Regions from separate parts of the Homo sapiens genome. Here region 1 is linked to region 2. A link means that fine-mapping ties the variant in region 2 to the expression of a gene that starts in the linked region. Tissue or cell type: fibroblasts. Region 2 holds a variant in brackets; the other region holds the start of a gene. All regions are shown on one strand. Distances are between the middles of the regions.

The links. PIP is the estimated chance that this variant, and not a neighbour inherited with it, causes the effect.
Region 1: it holds the start of RNF4, and the variant in region 2 is fine-mapped to the expression of RNF4 in fibroblasts (GTEx, PIP 0.91).

Annotation. Positions count from the first base shown.
Region 1 is chr4:2,465,746-2,473,846 of GRCh38, forward strand. RNF4 (ring finger protein 4) reads left to right here and starts at 3,361. Exons shown (of 8, transcript NM_002938.5): 1 at 3,361-3,513. It overlaps LOC107986250 (a long non-coding RNA gene), which reads right to left and starts at 3,206. Exons shown (of 2, transcript XR_001741551.3): 1 at 2,655-3,206. RefSeq lists a silencer at 2,904-3,073 and enhancers at 3,224-3,583, 3,267-3,839, 3,884-4,003.
Region 2 is chr4:2,514,340-2,522,440 of GRCh38, forward strand. It overlaps RNF4 (ring finger protein 4), which reads left to right. Exons shown (of 8, transcript NM_002938.5): 8 at 1-1,518. Among named protein-coding and RNA genes, the nearest start is that of FAM193A, 18 kb to the right of the region's middle. The variant C/T (reference allele first, on the strand shown) is at 3,111.

The DNA of each region.
Region 1 (8,101 bases), 49 kb before region 2:
TCAAGCTACTCCCCCAAAGGGGGCCAGCCAGAGTGAGATATGGCCCAGCTAGTGCTGACAATCCCTCTCTGAACCTTTCCTGGCTGGACTGCCTGGGGAGTGGACATTTTGCCTGAGTACAGGCTAGTCAGAAGATCCTTGTTGATAGCATCTGAGACCCACTTGGGCAGGGGCTTTCTTTGGAAATAGTGAAGAAACAGATTTAGTAGCTGGTGTGAGGCCCAGGAACCTGCATTCAGCTGGTTTCGACTTGTGGGACTATGGGAGCACCAAGGTGCCGGTCTTTTCTCTAAGCTGCAGGCGTTCAGGGCCCAAGGGAAGCGCTATTTGTGAAGGAACAAGTTCAGTGCAAGTGAGGCTTGGAGAAGACTTGAAAGCAGCTTTTGTTTTTGTTTTTGAGGCAGGGTCTCGCTTTGTCACCCAGGCTGGAGTGCAGTGACGTGATGATAGCTCATACAGCCTTAAACTCCCGGGCTCAAGTGATCCTCTTGCCTCATCCTCCCTACTAGCTGGGACTGCATGCACTTACCACCATACCCAGCTAATTTTTTATTTTTAGTAGAGATGAGGTCTCACTATGTTGCCCTGGCTGAAGGCAGTCTTTGAGCATGAAACTGGTATTTATAGAGACTTTTTCAACATCACATCTTCAATATATTACAGTTACAAACAGAAAACCCTAACTTTTCCTTAGGCTGTAAAATACAAATTACTAATATTACTTTTTCTAAATCTGATTTTTTTTTTTTGAGAGAGAGAGGGTCTCATTCTGTCAATCAAGCTGACGTGCAATCACAGCTTACTGCAGCCATGACCTCCTGGGCTCAAGTAATCCTGCTGCCTCAGCCTCCTGAGTAGCTGGGACCACAGGGACATGCCACCACACCCGGCTAATTATTATTTGTGTGTGTGTGTGTGGAGAGGGGGTTTTACCACGTTACCCAGGCTCATCTATAAACTCCTCAGCTCAAGCAATCCTCCCACCTCAGCCTCCGAAAGTGTTAAGATTACAGGTGAGAGCCACCATGCCCGCCCTAAATCTGATCATTTTTAACCACCATTTTGATTAATCATGTACGGCCCCATTTATGAACTGAAATTCTCTTAAACATTTTCAACTGCATTTATACACGTAGAATCTAATTTTATTTTTTAGCATTTCAGTTGTCTGCCTTATCAAGTATTAATATTTAAATAATTCTCATAGATATATTAAATGTCTTCATTTCTTTTAAACTTTTAAGTTCTCTTTGCTCCAATTATAATCACAAACTTCGGAAAATGTTATACCTTTCAACTTACAGTCGCTATCAAAAATCAAATACTTAGGGCAGGGTGTGATGGCTCATGCCTGTAATCTCAACACTTTGGGAGGTCGAGGTGAGCAGATAACTTGAGCCCGGGGCTTCAAGACAAGACTGGGCAACATGGCGAAAGCCAGTGTCTACAAAAAAAAAATACAAAAAAATTAGCCAGGCATGGTGGCACACACCTGTGGTCCCAGCTACTCAGGAGGCCAAGGTGGGTTGATCATCTAAACCTGGGGAGGTCGAGGCTGCAGTGAGTGAGTCATGATTGTGCCACTGCACTCCAGCCTGGCTGACAGAGTGACACCTCGTCTCAAAAAAAAAAAAAAAAAAAAAGACTGGGTGCGGTGGCCCACGCCTGTAATCCCAGCACTTTGGGAGGCCGAGGCGGGTGGATCACGAGGTCAGGAGATCAAGACCATCCTGGCTAACACGGTGAAACCCCGTCTCTACTAAAAAATACAAAAAAAAAAAAATTAGCCAGGCGTGGTGGCGGGCGCCTGTAGTCCCAGCTACTTGGGAGGCTGAGGCAGGAGAATGGCGTGAACCCGGGATGCGGAGCTTGCAGTGAGCCGAGATCGCGCCACTGCACTCCAGCCTGGGCGACAGAGCGAGACTCCGTCTCAAAACAAACAAACAAACAAACAAAAAACACAAATACTTAGATATTTTACATGAGAATTACATTTATCTATCAGATACTCTACCATGCCAGATTTCCTTACAATTACGAAAAATAGCAAACACATATTGTTTGTAAATGCAACACAAAAACGTTAATGCTCTGGTTTCTATCTGCCTTGTCATTCCGTTATTTGACTCCATTTTCGAGGTTAGAAACTCACTGTAAGGTGGCCGGGCGAGGTGGCTCACACCAGTAATCCCAGCACTTTTGGAGGCCAAGGAGGGTGGATCACCTGAGGTCAGGAGCTCGAGACCAGCCTGGCCAACATGATGGAACTCCATCTCTACTAAAAATACAAAGAAAATTAGCCGGGCGTGGTGGCAGGCGCCTGTAATCCCAGCTATTCGGGAGGCTGAGGCAGGAGAATCACGTGAACCCAGGAGGTTAGAGCTTGCAGTGAGCCGAGATCGCGCCACTAAAACAAACAAACTCACTGTAAGGAAACAATGTAACCCAAGGCATTTGGGGTGACCTTCACGTTGCCTGAGGGTGCCGAGGGACCAGAGATGCTGGCCATGGACTAAGGTCTGGGTATTCTCAGGCAGCAGGGACAAGGTGGGCTTTTTTCCTGGTTGCTAAACCCACGTCAAAGTCGAGCTCAGGGACTGGAGCTCAAGAAACCCACCGCCCATTCTCCAGTCCGACCGGGGACCTGCATGCACCTCTGCCGTGCTGCCCTGAGTCCTCCAATCCTCCACACTCTTCCTCTGTTATGTACACGTCTCCACCCAGGCCTGCAAAAGTCCCAGCTTCCTCGCAGGGGCAGGGACCCGCACGCCGGCCCAGGGCTTGGCACGCGGGGATGCTGAAACAGGGCCAGGCCTGGTTTCCAGCCGATCGTCAGAGTCCCAAGGCCCAGCAACCTTCCTCACAAAGGCCTCGTTAAGAGGCGAGGAAACAAGAGCCGGGAGAGGGGCGCGGAACGGCGGGCGGGACGAACGACCAGCTCCGCGCCTCCGGCCAGCTGCGTCGAGCCAGGGGCACCGCGGCTGTTGTGCGGCTGGAAATCTAGGAATGGGAAGGTTCGGGGCCTGCTCGGCTCCGGAGGCAGCTGGCGGGTCGTCCCTGGCGGCGTTGGAGCGGTCAGTGGCAGCCGGGCACGGGCGACCGGGTCGCCCGGGTCGCCCTCAGACCGTGACTCCCGAAAAACCTTGCGGGCGGGGCGCGCCCGCGCCGTCTCTTGCCGGAAGGTGCGAGTTAGTGCGCTCGATTGTGGGCGGGGGCGGAAAGAGGCGCGTTTTAAAGTGGTAACAGATGGTTTTCTTATCCAATAGGATTAAAAAATTTGTCCTTACCCGGCCGACCGCGGAAGTAGAGTAGGCGGGCGGCCAATGGGGACATGATGGGGGGCGGAGCCGAGGCCTCCGAAGCGGAAGTGGGTTGCTGTTGAGGCGGCGGCATCTTTCTCGAGGAGCTCTCCTGGGCGGCTGAAGAAGGAGCTTCTTCTCCGGAGTGCGCCGGCGGTGGCGCCTGCGGACCTAACTAGCTCCAGGTTAGGCCGAGCTTTGCGGGAAAGCAGCGGTAAGTCAGGGCCTTGCAGATGCGAGGTTTAGGCAGCTTCGCGGCCTACAGAGGCCTCGGCCCGCGCCTCTTGGGGGAGCCGCGCTGCGCGGCTTGACCCAGCCGAGGCTTTGCAGCCCGGGACCTCGAGCCAGCTCTGGTCGCTCGCACTGCCGTCCGCGCGGGCGCACCGAGCCCGGCTTGGCGCGGGCAACAGAAGTTAGGAGGTCTGCGTCTGGGTCTCGGCTCACCCTGGGGGGCCGCGGCCATGGGGCTTAGTTCCTAGCCTAGGAAGGGAAACTGAGACTCTGGGAGGGGCAGGAACGCCCCCAAGGTCACTTGGAAAGTCGGGCAGGATGTGCTGTTAGGGGGAAGACCCGGGCAGGGTTTTTGTTCCCCGCTGACGACGCCTCCTTTGTGTGTTCGCGCCGCCGCCCCGCCATCGTGGGGCCTGCGAGTTTGCCGGGGTGCGTGGGCCGCGTGGCGGGGCCTTTTGTAGGTCGGGAGGATCTGAGTACGGGTGCGGGCCTGACCGTGGGGGCGCCGAGGTCGCAGTCTAAAACTTAGTAGGGCCTCGATTTCCGGGCGCGCTTCCGGGCCCCGGCTGGTGGTTGGTGGAACGTGCGACTGTGAGGCTTGCGGCCCAGCCCTGCACCGCTCGGGCCCTTCACCGCTCTGGCGCGCCTATAGACAGGTGTATGAAGATTCTCACGACCCGAAACAGAGTTGCTAGTAAACACCGCTTTTCCGCCTTTGATCCATCGAGGGAAGAGGGAAAAGGATAGAGCTTGGGCAAGCCGTTTTGGTAGGGATTTCAGCTTTTGTCTTTCACTTGTCAGTTCCCATAGACGTTCACAAACTTAATAATCTTCGTTCTGTTTCTGCACCAAGTTCTTGAGCCAGACGTAGGGTCTCAGCTCTGGAGCCTGGCTTAGACTGTCCAACTGACTGGGGAGACTGAGGTCCAGAAAAGTGAAGTGGTCTGCCCAAGGTCACATAGCCAGCTATTTGGCAGCAGATGAGGTTAAGTCCTACCTGCAAGATTTGGGTTTTGAATTCATTGACCAGGAGTTTTGGGACCACTGTCAATAAAAGAGACATTGAAGGGAATCTTTTGTTACTTTCTTGGTGATTTGCTTTTTAATGGACAAGGACATATTGGGTTCAGTTTTATCTGTGAGTTTGAGGTGAAATAGAGGCATTCGAGTAGCAAGATATATTGCTGGCTTTTGTATTGCCTGAATTTGAGCTTCCAAAAATCTTACTTTAACACATCGTTTATTGATCTTTTCTTGAATTACTACCTTTGTAAGGACCTTTTGTAAACATTGTTTTTCTAATCTTCATGAAATCTTAATGCCATACGTAAACTATTTCTTTTTATATAATGTATGCACATCTGTGCTTTGTACATAAAATGAGTAAGATTTTTCACTCTCCTCAAGATCAAAGTAGCGTATTTTTGAGGTCTCCTGTATGCCAACCTTTCTGCTTGGAATACAGCAGTAAACAGTCGTGGTCCTCCTGTAGCTGGGTGAGGATGGAGGGAATAAGAGATAACTCATTTTATTGTGTTTTGCAAATACTGCCTTTTTTTTTTTGCAAGGTGAAGGTTTATAGCAAGGATTCATCGAGCAAGTCTGTAAATGCCAGCCATTTTTCCAACAGCATGTGCTCACTTTGTGTCTCTTGTGTCACGTTTGGGTAATTCACAATATTTCACACTTTTTTTTTTTTTTTTTTTTTGAGGTGGAATCTCACTCTGTCACCCAGGATGCAGTGCACTGGCGTGTTCTCGGTCTCACTGTAACCTCTGCCATCTGGGCTCAAGTGATTCTCCTGCCTCAGCCTCCGGAGTAGCTGGGATTACAGGCATGTACTACCACACCCAGTTAATTTTTGTATTTTTAGTGGAGACGGGGTTTCACCATATTGGCCAGGCTGGTCTCGAACGCCTGACCTCAAGTGATCCGCCTGCCTCGGCCTCCCAAAGTGCTGGGATTACAGGCATGAGCCACCATGCCCAGCCCCAAACCTTTTCATTGTTACATCTGTTATAGTGACCTGTGATCAATGTTTTGGGTTACCATGAATAGCACTCATATAAGACAGTGAACTTAATTGGTAAAAGTTGGGTGTGTACTAACAGCTCCACTGACTGGCAGTTCCCAGTCTCTCTCCTCAGGCCTCTCAATTCCTTGAGACACAATATTGAAATTAGGCCAGTCAGTGACCCTACAGTGTCCAGGCAAAAGGAGCAGTCAGTTGAATCTCTCTTACTTTAAGTGAAGTTAAGAAATGTTTATCCTTAGTGAGAAAGGCGTATCAAAAGTTGAGATAGGCCAAAAGCTAGGCCTCTTGTGCTGAATGACAGTTAGCCAAGTTGTGAATGCAGAGGAAGAGTTCTTGAAATTAAAATGCTACTCCAATGAATACATGAATGATAAGCCAAACAGCCTTATTGCTGATAGGGAGAAAGTTTTAGTGGTCTGGATAGAAGATCAAACCATCCATGACATTCCCTTAAGCGAAAGCCTAATCCGGAGCAAGGTACTAACTCTCTTCAATTCTGTGAAGAGTGAGGAAGCTGCAGAAGAAAAGTTTGAAACTGGCAGAGGTTAGTTCATGAGGTTTAAGGGAAGAAGCCACCTCTGTAATGTAAAAGTGTAAGGTGAGGCAGTAAGTGTTGATGAAGAAGCTGCAGCAAGTTATGCAGAACATATAGCTAAAATAATTGATGAAGGTGGCCACACTAAACAACAGACTTTCAATGTAAATGAAACAGCCTTATATGGAAAAAAAAATACTATCTAGGACTTTCATAGCTAGAGAAAGGTCAATGCCTGGCTTCAAAGGACAGTCTGATTCTCTTGTTAGGGGCTAGTGTGGCCAGTGACTTAAGTTGTAACTAGTGCTCATTTACCATTCTGAAAATCCTAGGGCCCTTAAGAAGTATGCAAAAATCTACTGTGTGCTGATCATTGAAACAGGAAAGCCTGTATAGTAGCATATCTGTTTACAGTATGTTTTACTGAATATTTTAAGCCCACTATTGAGATCTACAGCTCAGAAAAAAAGATTTCTTTCAAAATATTACTGCTCATTGAGAATGTGCTTAGTCACCAAAGAGGTCTCATGGAGATGAGTAAGATTAATGTTAACATCTGTTCTGCAGCCCATGGATCAAGGAGTAATTTCAACTCTCAAATCTTACTTAAGAAATGCATCTTGAGGCTGAGCACAGTGGCTCATGCCTGTACTCGCAGCACTTCGGGAGGCCAAAGCTGGTGGATCGCTTGAGCTCAGGAGTTAGAGACCAGCCGGGGCAGCATAGTGAGACCACCCCCTCCACTGCCAGTCTCTTAAAAAAAAAAAAAAAAAAGGGCGGCAGGGGGAAAGAAAGAAATGCATTTTGTAAGGCTACAGCTACATAGATTGTGATTCTTCTGATGGGTATCAACAATGTAAATTAAAAACCTCCTGAAAGGATATACTATTCTAGATACCATTAAGAATATTTGTCTCCAGGCACGGTGGCTCACCCGTGTAATCCCAGCACTTTGGGAGGCGAAGTGGGCGGATCACAAGGTCAGGAGATCGAGACCATCCTGGCTAACATGGTGAAACCCCATCTCTACTAAAAATACAAAAAATTAGCCGGTCTTGGCAGCGGGCACCTGTAGTCCCAGCTACTCGGGAGGCTGAGGCAGGAGAATGGTGTGAACCCGGGAAGAGGAGCTTGCAGTGAGCCAAGATAGCACCACTGCACTCCAGCCTGGGCAACAGAGCGAGACTCCATCTCAAAAAAGAAAAAAAAAAAGAATATTTGTGATTCATGGGAGGAGGTCAAAATATCAACATCAGCAGTTCACGGTGGCTCACGCCTGTAATCCCAGCACTTTGGGAGGCTGGGGCAGGCAGATCACCTGAGGTCAGGAGTTTGAGACCAGCCTGCCCAACATGGTGAAACCCCGTCTCTACCAACAAAATACAAAAATTAGCCAGGCATGGTGGCACGCTCCTGTAGTCCCAGCTACTTGAGGAGCTGAGGTAGGTTAATCGCTTGGGCCCAGGAGGTGGAGGCTGCAGTGAGCCGAGATTGTGCCTCTGCACTACAGCCTGGGCAACAGTGAGATTCCGTCTTAAAAAAAAAAATCAATTAACACAACAAGAACTTGGAAAAAGTTGATTCTGACCCTCATGGGTGACTTTGAGGGGTTCTAGACTTCAATGGAAAAAGTAACTGTAGATGTGGTGGAAATAGCAAGAGAACTAGAATTAGAAGTAGAGCCTGGCCGGGCCTGGTGGCTCACGCCTGTAATCTCAGCACTTTGGGAGGCCTAGGCGGGTGGATTACGAGGTCAGGAGTTCACAACCAGCCTGGCCAGATGGTGAAACCCCGTCTCTACTAAAAATACAAAAAATTAGCAGGGCGTGGTGGCGCACGCCTGTAATCCTAGCTACTCTGGAAGCTGAGGCAGAGAATTGCTTAAACCTGGAGGGGCAGAGGTTGTGGTGAGCCGAGATCACACTACTGCACTCCAGCCTGGGCGACAGAGCGAGACTCTGTCTAGAAAAAAAAAAGTAGAGCCTGAAGGCTGGGCCTGAT
Region 2 (8,101 bases):
TGATTCTGCCTGCACCTTATCATTGATCTGCAGTGATTTCTGCAAATCAAGAGAAACTCTGCAGGGCACTCCCCTGTTTCCTAAGAACGAAAAAGTGCAATAAAGGCCATTCGTTACCTACTTTTCAGCAGCCCACAAGATGTAGCACTATTAGTGTCCCCCTCAGAGGCTTAATGTTGCCTGTGGAGCAGTGCCCATCCCAGCCCGTTTCTGCCCACCAGTTGTTCTCAGGAACCTTACCCATGCTCCAGCGTCCTTCACCTGGCACAGGACATGCAAGATAAATAGGGCAGGCACGTGTTTGGGTGTCCTCTCTTTTCTGATAAAATCCATCCCGTGTTTGCCACACGCCCTCCAGTCCTCAGTTCCCACTGCCTAACGTCTGCCCCCGTGTAGATACTGAGAGGTGGTGGCAGTAATTGTGGCCTTATCAGCCGCTCAGTTCCAGGCTTTTGCCCAGGTCACTGTTGCCCCATGTTCGGAGAACCTGGCCCACCTGTCTTGGCTTTCTCATCCTTCCCAACCCAGTGCCGTTTATTTCAGAAGCTTCCTGGCCACTGGGCTTGGATGCTTCGGGCTTCTGACTGCTCCATAGGTTTTGACTGGTGAAACAGGGGCCCAGATGACAACCTCTCCTTCGCTCCACAGGTACGCGGGAGCCTCAGGTTCTCTCAGGGGCAGCAAAGTGGCCCAAGCTGCCCCTGACAGCACAGGGCCTGGGGGGTGGCTAACGAGAGAGGCCTTACAGTGCCGGCATGCCTCCTCTTCCACTGTCGTCCTTCCTCAGAGGGCCTCACGCCAAACAAACGGCCTTTTCGTGTGAAACATCTTCAGGGCGGGAAAGGGGCCACTTCTGGCTTTGTTAGCAATAACTGACCTTCAGTTTACCCTTCTGAAGGAGCAGGGACTCAGCACAGAATTCACTTTAGACGGGGCTGAAGGAGTGTCCCTCCTCTATGTGAAAAGAAAATTGTTTTATTCTTCATTCTGACTTTTTAACTGTTTGGCTCACTTCCAGTTAGTTTGAATGAAAATAATAATTTTCTACTTGGAGTTGAAGAGGGCAGAATCCGCAGCTCTCATCATTGTGATGTGTAGCATGTCTGCCCTCTGACTGGACATCATTGCCATTAACTTTCTTCTGGGCATCACGGCAATGTCACGATGCCCAGACTTGGAGCAAGGCAACCTTGGAGTCAGTCCACTCATAAAATATGGTAACACCCATTTTAAAATTTAAGTTTTGTCCTTAAAGACAACTTCAGTGGTTAATTATAAAAGTTGTGTTACTTCGTCCTAAATTAAATTGATAGAAAGATTTAAAAATGTGTTTTGTTTCTACTATTCAGAAACTGCGAACTAGGGAAAGGTTGGTATGAAGAAATGTCTTTCCTTTTTTCAATGTACATAGTTCAACTCTTTCTTTGTTACATTTAAACTATATCCATGGATATCAGTCTGCTTTGGACTCCTCTGCTAGTGTTACAGATGGAAATAAAACCATTAATTTGAACCAAATATCTTTTACACATTCATTTGCTCTTTGGAATCAATTTCCCCCCTTTTTGCCAAGGTGCGGGGTTCTTATCTGCCTCACGTTGAGTGTATTTTGCATTGGTGTGTGTTCAGGAAGTTTCCATGTCCTAAATCCAGCAAGCATGTGAGAGGCTGTTCTTGGAGCACAGCCACAAGCCCAAGCCCTGGAGTCCCTAAGAGAGCAGAGTCTACTCTGAGAGGCAAGGTTGACCAAGGAGCTGTCTGCTCAGCTCGGCCAGTCTCTCAGAGGTGCTGGGGGTGCTGCTCTGAGTGGGATGGACTGAGATTGCCCTGGAAACCTTGCACTGCAGCACCCCCCTTTGCCCCTGACCACCTAGATACAAAATTTGCCCTCTGAGTGGGAGTCAGCACTGGGAGTGCATGGATATGCCAGCCACTGCCACAGGCGAGCAGTGCCAGCAAAGCCACAAGGAGGGAATGGGCTTGGCAGTGTGGCCAAGCTCTCCCTTTGCCTCTGCCCTCTGTACCTATCCAGCTGTCCCCAGGGACTAGAAAGGCTAACATGCTGGCTGCCTGGGTCCCAAAGGCCTACCATCCAGTGCAGTTTGCTTACCATGCTCCTGGCACTGCACTTTTGGCTCTGTGGGCAGTGAGACAGACATCATGGAACATGTTTACAGAGGAGACAGTCCCCCAGGCCACTGGAAAATTGAAACTGATGAGGGTGGGGTACGGGAAACCAGGAGATCCAGCAGGAAGAAGTTGAAGCTGTCCAGAAAGCTCTCTCTGAATAAGGGCTGCTAAGTTGCCATCTTCAAGGTCCAGAAAGCTCTCTAGGGAAAGAGGAAAGAATTCCAGAGACCCCAGGCCAGGCCTGTGAAAGTTATGAGAAAGAGCTTCTTGCTGGCATACAGTAGGGTCTGCAGGCTCCCCGATACCTAAAGGCATTGGACCAGACACTTCTGGTGGCTACCCAGGGCCTGGCAGTTCTTTACCCCAGGAGCAAGCCTAGGGGAGGCAGGGAGCAGTGTATCCCTAAGACTGGTACTGCTGGAGTGGGTCTGGTCCTGGAAAGGAGGGAGCCCCCAAGGCTGGCTATAGAAACTCAAAAGATGTCTGTATTAACTTTTTCGGTGGGGGGGTGGTTTTGTTTTGTTTTGGCAGCATAGAAACAATTGATTCTCTATATTGTGTATCCAGAATCCTTGCTATTTTTTTTTTTTTCCTAAGACGGAGTCTGGCTCTGTCGCCCAGGCTGGAGTGCAGTGGCTCGATCTCAGCTCACTGCAACCTCCGCCTCCCAGGTTCAAGCGATTCTCCTGCCTCAGCCACCCAACCAGCTGGGATTACAGGGACGTGCCACCATGTCCAGCTAATTTTTGTAGTTTTCGTAGATACGGGCTTTCACCATGTTGGCCAGGCTGGTCTCAAACTCCTGATCTCAAGTGATCCGCCCGCCTCGGCCTCCCAAAGTGTTGGGATTACAGGCGTGAGTCACCACTCCCAGCCCCAACTCTATTTTTTTTTTCTTTTTTCTTTTTTTCTATTTTTGTAGAGACGGGGGTCTCATCACGTTGCCCATCCTGGTCTTTAACTCCTCGCCTCAGGCGATA[C/T]TCCTACCTCAGCCTCCCAAAGGTGCTGGAATTAAAAGTGTGCGCCACCGCGCCCAGCCTAGCCCAGTACATTATTATTACACACAAATGGTGTTTGTGTTTTAGTGTTTCATCAAGAAAGATGTTTGCTGTAGGTTCTAGTTAGATAACTGTCAGATGAGGGAGGTTCATTTTCCTACCATGAGATAAGCATTTATCTTTTTTTTTTTTTTTTTGAGACGGAGTTTCACTCATCGCCCAGGCTGGAGTGCAGTGGTGCAATCTCTGCTCACTGCAGTCTCCGCCTCCTGGGTTCAAGCAATTCTCCAGCCTCAGCCTCCCGAGTAGCTGGGATTACAGGCATGCACCACCATGCCCGGCTAATTTTTGTATTTTTAGTAGAAACGGGATTTTACCATGTTGGCCAGGCTGCCCTCAAACTCCTGACCTCAGGTGATCCGCCTGCCTCGGCCTCCTCAAAAGTGCTGGGATTACAGGCATGAGCCATGACACCTAGTGGCATTTGTCTTCAATTTCTGTTTTTTGTTTTTGTTTTTTTTTAACGAGACAGATTCTTGCTCTGTTGCCAAGGCTGGAGTGCAGTGGCACAATCTCGGCTTACTGCAACCTCCACCTCGGGGTTCAAGCGATTCTCCTGCCTCAGCCTCCTGAGTAGCTAGGCATGCACCAGCACGCCTGGCTAGTTTTTGTATTTTTAGTAGAGACAGGGTTTCTCTATTTTTGTTTTTGGTCACAAGTGAATGTTCAATCTTACCAGTCCTTTTTCTGCTTCTATTGAGACAAGATTTGTTTGCCTCTCTAATCAGTTAATGTATTGGGTAACATAGTTATATGTTGTTTAACTACAGGGATATGTTCTTTTTTTTTTTTTTTTTTTTTTTTTTTTTTTTTTTTTCCAGAGACAGATTTTCACTCTGTCACCCAGGCTGGAATGCAGTGGCATGATCTCAGCTCACTGCAGCCTTCACCTCCCACATACAAGCGATTCTCCTGCCTCAGCCTCCAGAGTATAGCTAGGATTACAGGTGTGCACCACCATGCCCAGCTAATTTTTTCTGTTTCTAGTAGAGACAGAGTTTCACCATGTTGGCCAGGCTGGTCTCGAACTCCTGACTGCAAGTGATCCACCCACCTCAGCCTGCCAAAGTGCTGGGATTACAAGCGTGAGCCACTGCGCCCCACCTTACAGGGATATGTTCTGAGAAATGTGTTGTTAAGCTGGGCTCTGTGGCTCACGCCTGTAATCCCAGCACTTGGGGAGGCCGAGGTGGGTGGATCACGAGGTCAGGAGTTCAAGACCAGCCTGGCCAAGATGGTGAAACCCGTCTCTACTAAAAATACAAAAGTAGCTGGGTACGGTGGCAGGCGCCTGTAATCCCAGCTACTTGGGAGGCTGAGGCAGGAGAATCTGTTGAACCTGGGCAGCAGAGGTTGCAGTGAGGCAATATTGCGCCACTGCACTCCAGCCTGAGTGATAGAGTGAGACTCCATCTCAAAAAAAAAAAAAAAAAGACAAAAAGAAATGTATTGTTAGGCAATTCTGCTGTTGTATGAACATTGTACAGTGTAATGTGTAATTAAACCTAGATTGCAGAGCCTACTACACATCTAGGCTATGTGATATAGCCTACTGCTCTGGGCTACAAACCTGTACATGTTACTGTACTGAATACTGAAGGCAGTTGTAACACGATGGTAAGTATTTGTGTATCTAAACATAGAAAAGGTACAGAAAAGGCAGGGCGTGGTGGCTCATGCCTGTATTCCCAGCACTTTGGGAGGCCAAGGCAGGCAGATCACCTGAGGTCAGGAGTTCGAGACCAGCCTGACCAACATGGAGAAACCCCATCTCTACTAAAAATACAAAATTAGCCAGGCGTGGCGGCACATGCCTGTAATCCCAGCTACTCAGGAGGTTGAGGCAGGAGAATCGCTTGAATCTAGGAGGCAGAGGTTGCAGTGAGCCGAAATCATGCCATTGCACTCCAGCCTGGGCAACAGAGACTCCATCTAAACAAAAAAAGAGAAAAAATGGAGGCTGAGTGCAGGGGCTCACACCTGTAGTCCCAACACTTTGAGAGGCAGATGTGGGAGGATGGCTTGAGCTCAGGAGTTCAAGACCAGCCTGAGCCACATAGTGAGACCCTGTCTCTATTATTATTATTATTATTATTTTTTTTTTTTTGAGATGGAGTCTCGCTCTGTTGCCCAGGCTGGAGTGCAGTGGGCGATCTTGGCTTACTGCAAGCTCCACCTCCCAGGTTCACGCCATTCTCCTGCCTCAGCCTCCCAAATAGCTGGGACTACAGGCGCCCGCCACCACACCTGGCTAATTTTTTGTATTTTTAGTAGAGACGGGGTTTCACCATGTTAGCCAGGATGGTCTCGATCTTCCGACCTCGTGAGCCGCCTGTCTCGGCCTCCCAAAGTGCTGGGATTACAGGCGTGAGCCACTGCGCCCAGCCATGTCTCTATTATTTTTAAAAAATAACAATTAAAAACAAAAACCGTGTACATTAGCCTAAGTCTACACAGGGTCGGGGTCATCATCATCACTGTTTTCCACCTCTTCCTCTTGTCCCACCAGAAGGTCTGTAGGGCCGATAACACGTGGAGCTCTCATCTGCGGTGACGGTGCCTCTGGAATACCTCCTGAAGAACCTGTGAGACTGTTTTGCAATTGACTTCTTTTTTTTTTTTTTTTTTTTTTTTTTGGAACAGCATCTTGCTTTGTCACCTGTGTTGGAGTGTGGTGGCACAATCATGGTTCATTGTCATTGCAGCTTTGACCTCCCGGGCTCAAGTGATCCTCCCACCCCAGCCTCTCAAGTAGCTGGGACTATAGGCACCAGGCCTAGCTAATTTTGTTTATATTTTACAGAGGCAAGGTCTCACTGTGTTGCCCACGCTGGTCTCAAAGCAATCCTCCTGTCTTGGCCTCCCCAAAGTGCTGAAACACAGGTGTGAGCCACTGTGCCAAGCCTAACCTTTTTTTTTTTTCTTTTTTTTTTTTTTTTTAATAATAGAAGGGCCGGGTGCAGTGGCTCACGCCTGTAATCCCAGCACTTTCGGAGGCCGAGGCACGTGGATCACCTGAAGTCAGGAGTTTGAGACCTGCCTGGCCAACATGGTGAAAACCCATCTCTACTGAAAATACAAAAATTAGCCAGGTGTGGTGGTGCACACCTGTAATCCCAGCTACTCGGGAGGCTGAGGCAGGAGAATAGGAGAATAGCTTGAACCCGGGAGGCAGGGGTTGCAATGAGCCAAGATCACACCACTGCACTCCAGCCTGGGCGACAAGAGCAAAACCCCATCTCAAAAAAAAAAAAAAAAAAAATAATAATAATAATAATAATAATAATAGAGTACAATCTTAAAATATAATGACTAAGCCAGTAACATAGTCACTTATTAAGTATGTACTGCACATAAATTATATGTGCTATAACTTTATACAACTGGTGGCACCGCATGTAACAATGTACTACAACATGACAGCTAAGCTGTCACTAGGCAATAGGCATTTTTCAGCTCCATTATACTCAACGGGACCACCATTGTGTATGTGGTCTGCTGACTAAGGTCTACAGCAGCACATGACTGTATTTGATTTTCTAGCAGACACTATACTTGCATTTCTCTGATAACTTCACCCTATTCATGATACTTTGTCCTTCTATATGTTTGTTTGTTTGTTTTTGTTTTGTTTGTTTGTTTTTTTTGAGATGGAGTAGCTGGGATTACAAGCACCCGCCACCATGCCCGGCTAATTTTTGTATTTTCAGTAGAAACGGGGTTTCACCATGTTGGCCAGGCTACTCTTGAACTCCTGACCTCAGATGATCTGCTGTCCTTGGCCTCCCAAAGTGCTGGGCTTACAGGCGTGAGCCACCATGCCTGGTCACTACTGTACATTTCAAGACCCCCAGTGGATGCCTGAAACCTCAGTACCAAATTGTATATATATTGGTTTTTTCTTATACGTATGTACTTACACATGATAAAGTTTAATTTACAAATTAGGCACAGTAAGAGGTTAGCAACTAATAAAATATTGTATATGTAGTACTTTTTTTTTTTTTTTGAGATGGAGTCTTGCTCTGTCACCCAGGCTGGAGTGCAGTGGCATGATCTCTGCTCACTGCAAACTCCGCCTCCTGGGTTCCAGCAATTCTCCTGTCTCAGCCTCCTGAGTAGCTGGGATTACAGGCGTGCACCACCGTGCCCGGCTAATTTTTGTATTTATAGTAGAGATAGGGTTCACCATGTTGGTCAGGCTGGTCTCGAACCCCTGACCTCGTGATCCACCTGCCTCGGCCTCCCAAAGTGCTAGGATTACAGGCGTGAGTCACTGTGCCCAGCGCAGTACTTTCTTTTCCAGTGTTTTGTGTGTGTTTTGTAGAGACAGGGTCTCACTATGTTGCCCAGGCTGGTATTGAGCTCCTGGCCTCCAGCAATCCTCCTGAATATGGTCTGAAAATATTTCATTGTAGTGTGTGCTATGAGTAACTGTGTTCTCAAAGCAAAAACATAGAAAGCGGTGTACTGCTGTATTATATTTTAAGATTCATTAATGTTTGTAGTTCATTTTTCTCACTGTATATTATTTTATTAGATGGATATGCTTCAATTTATCCACTATTTGGGTCATTTAAGTTTTGGGGCTAGGCCGGGCGCGGTGGCTCACGCCTGTAATCCCAGCACTTTGGGAGGCCGAGGCGGGTGGATCATGAGGTCAGGAGATCGAGACCATCCTGGCTAACAAGGTGAAACCCCGTCTCTACTAAAAATACAAAAAATTAGCCGGGCGCGGTGGCGGGCGCCTGTAGTCCCAGCTACTTGGGAGGCTGAGGCAGGAGAATGGCGTGAACCCGGGAAGCGGAGCTTGCAGTGAGCCGAGATTGCGCCACTGCAGTCCGCAGTCCGGCCTGGGCGACAGAGCGAGACTCCGTCTCAAAAAAAAAAAAAAAAAAAAAGTTTTGGGGCTA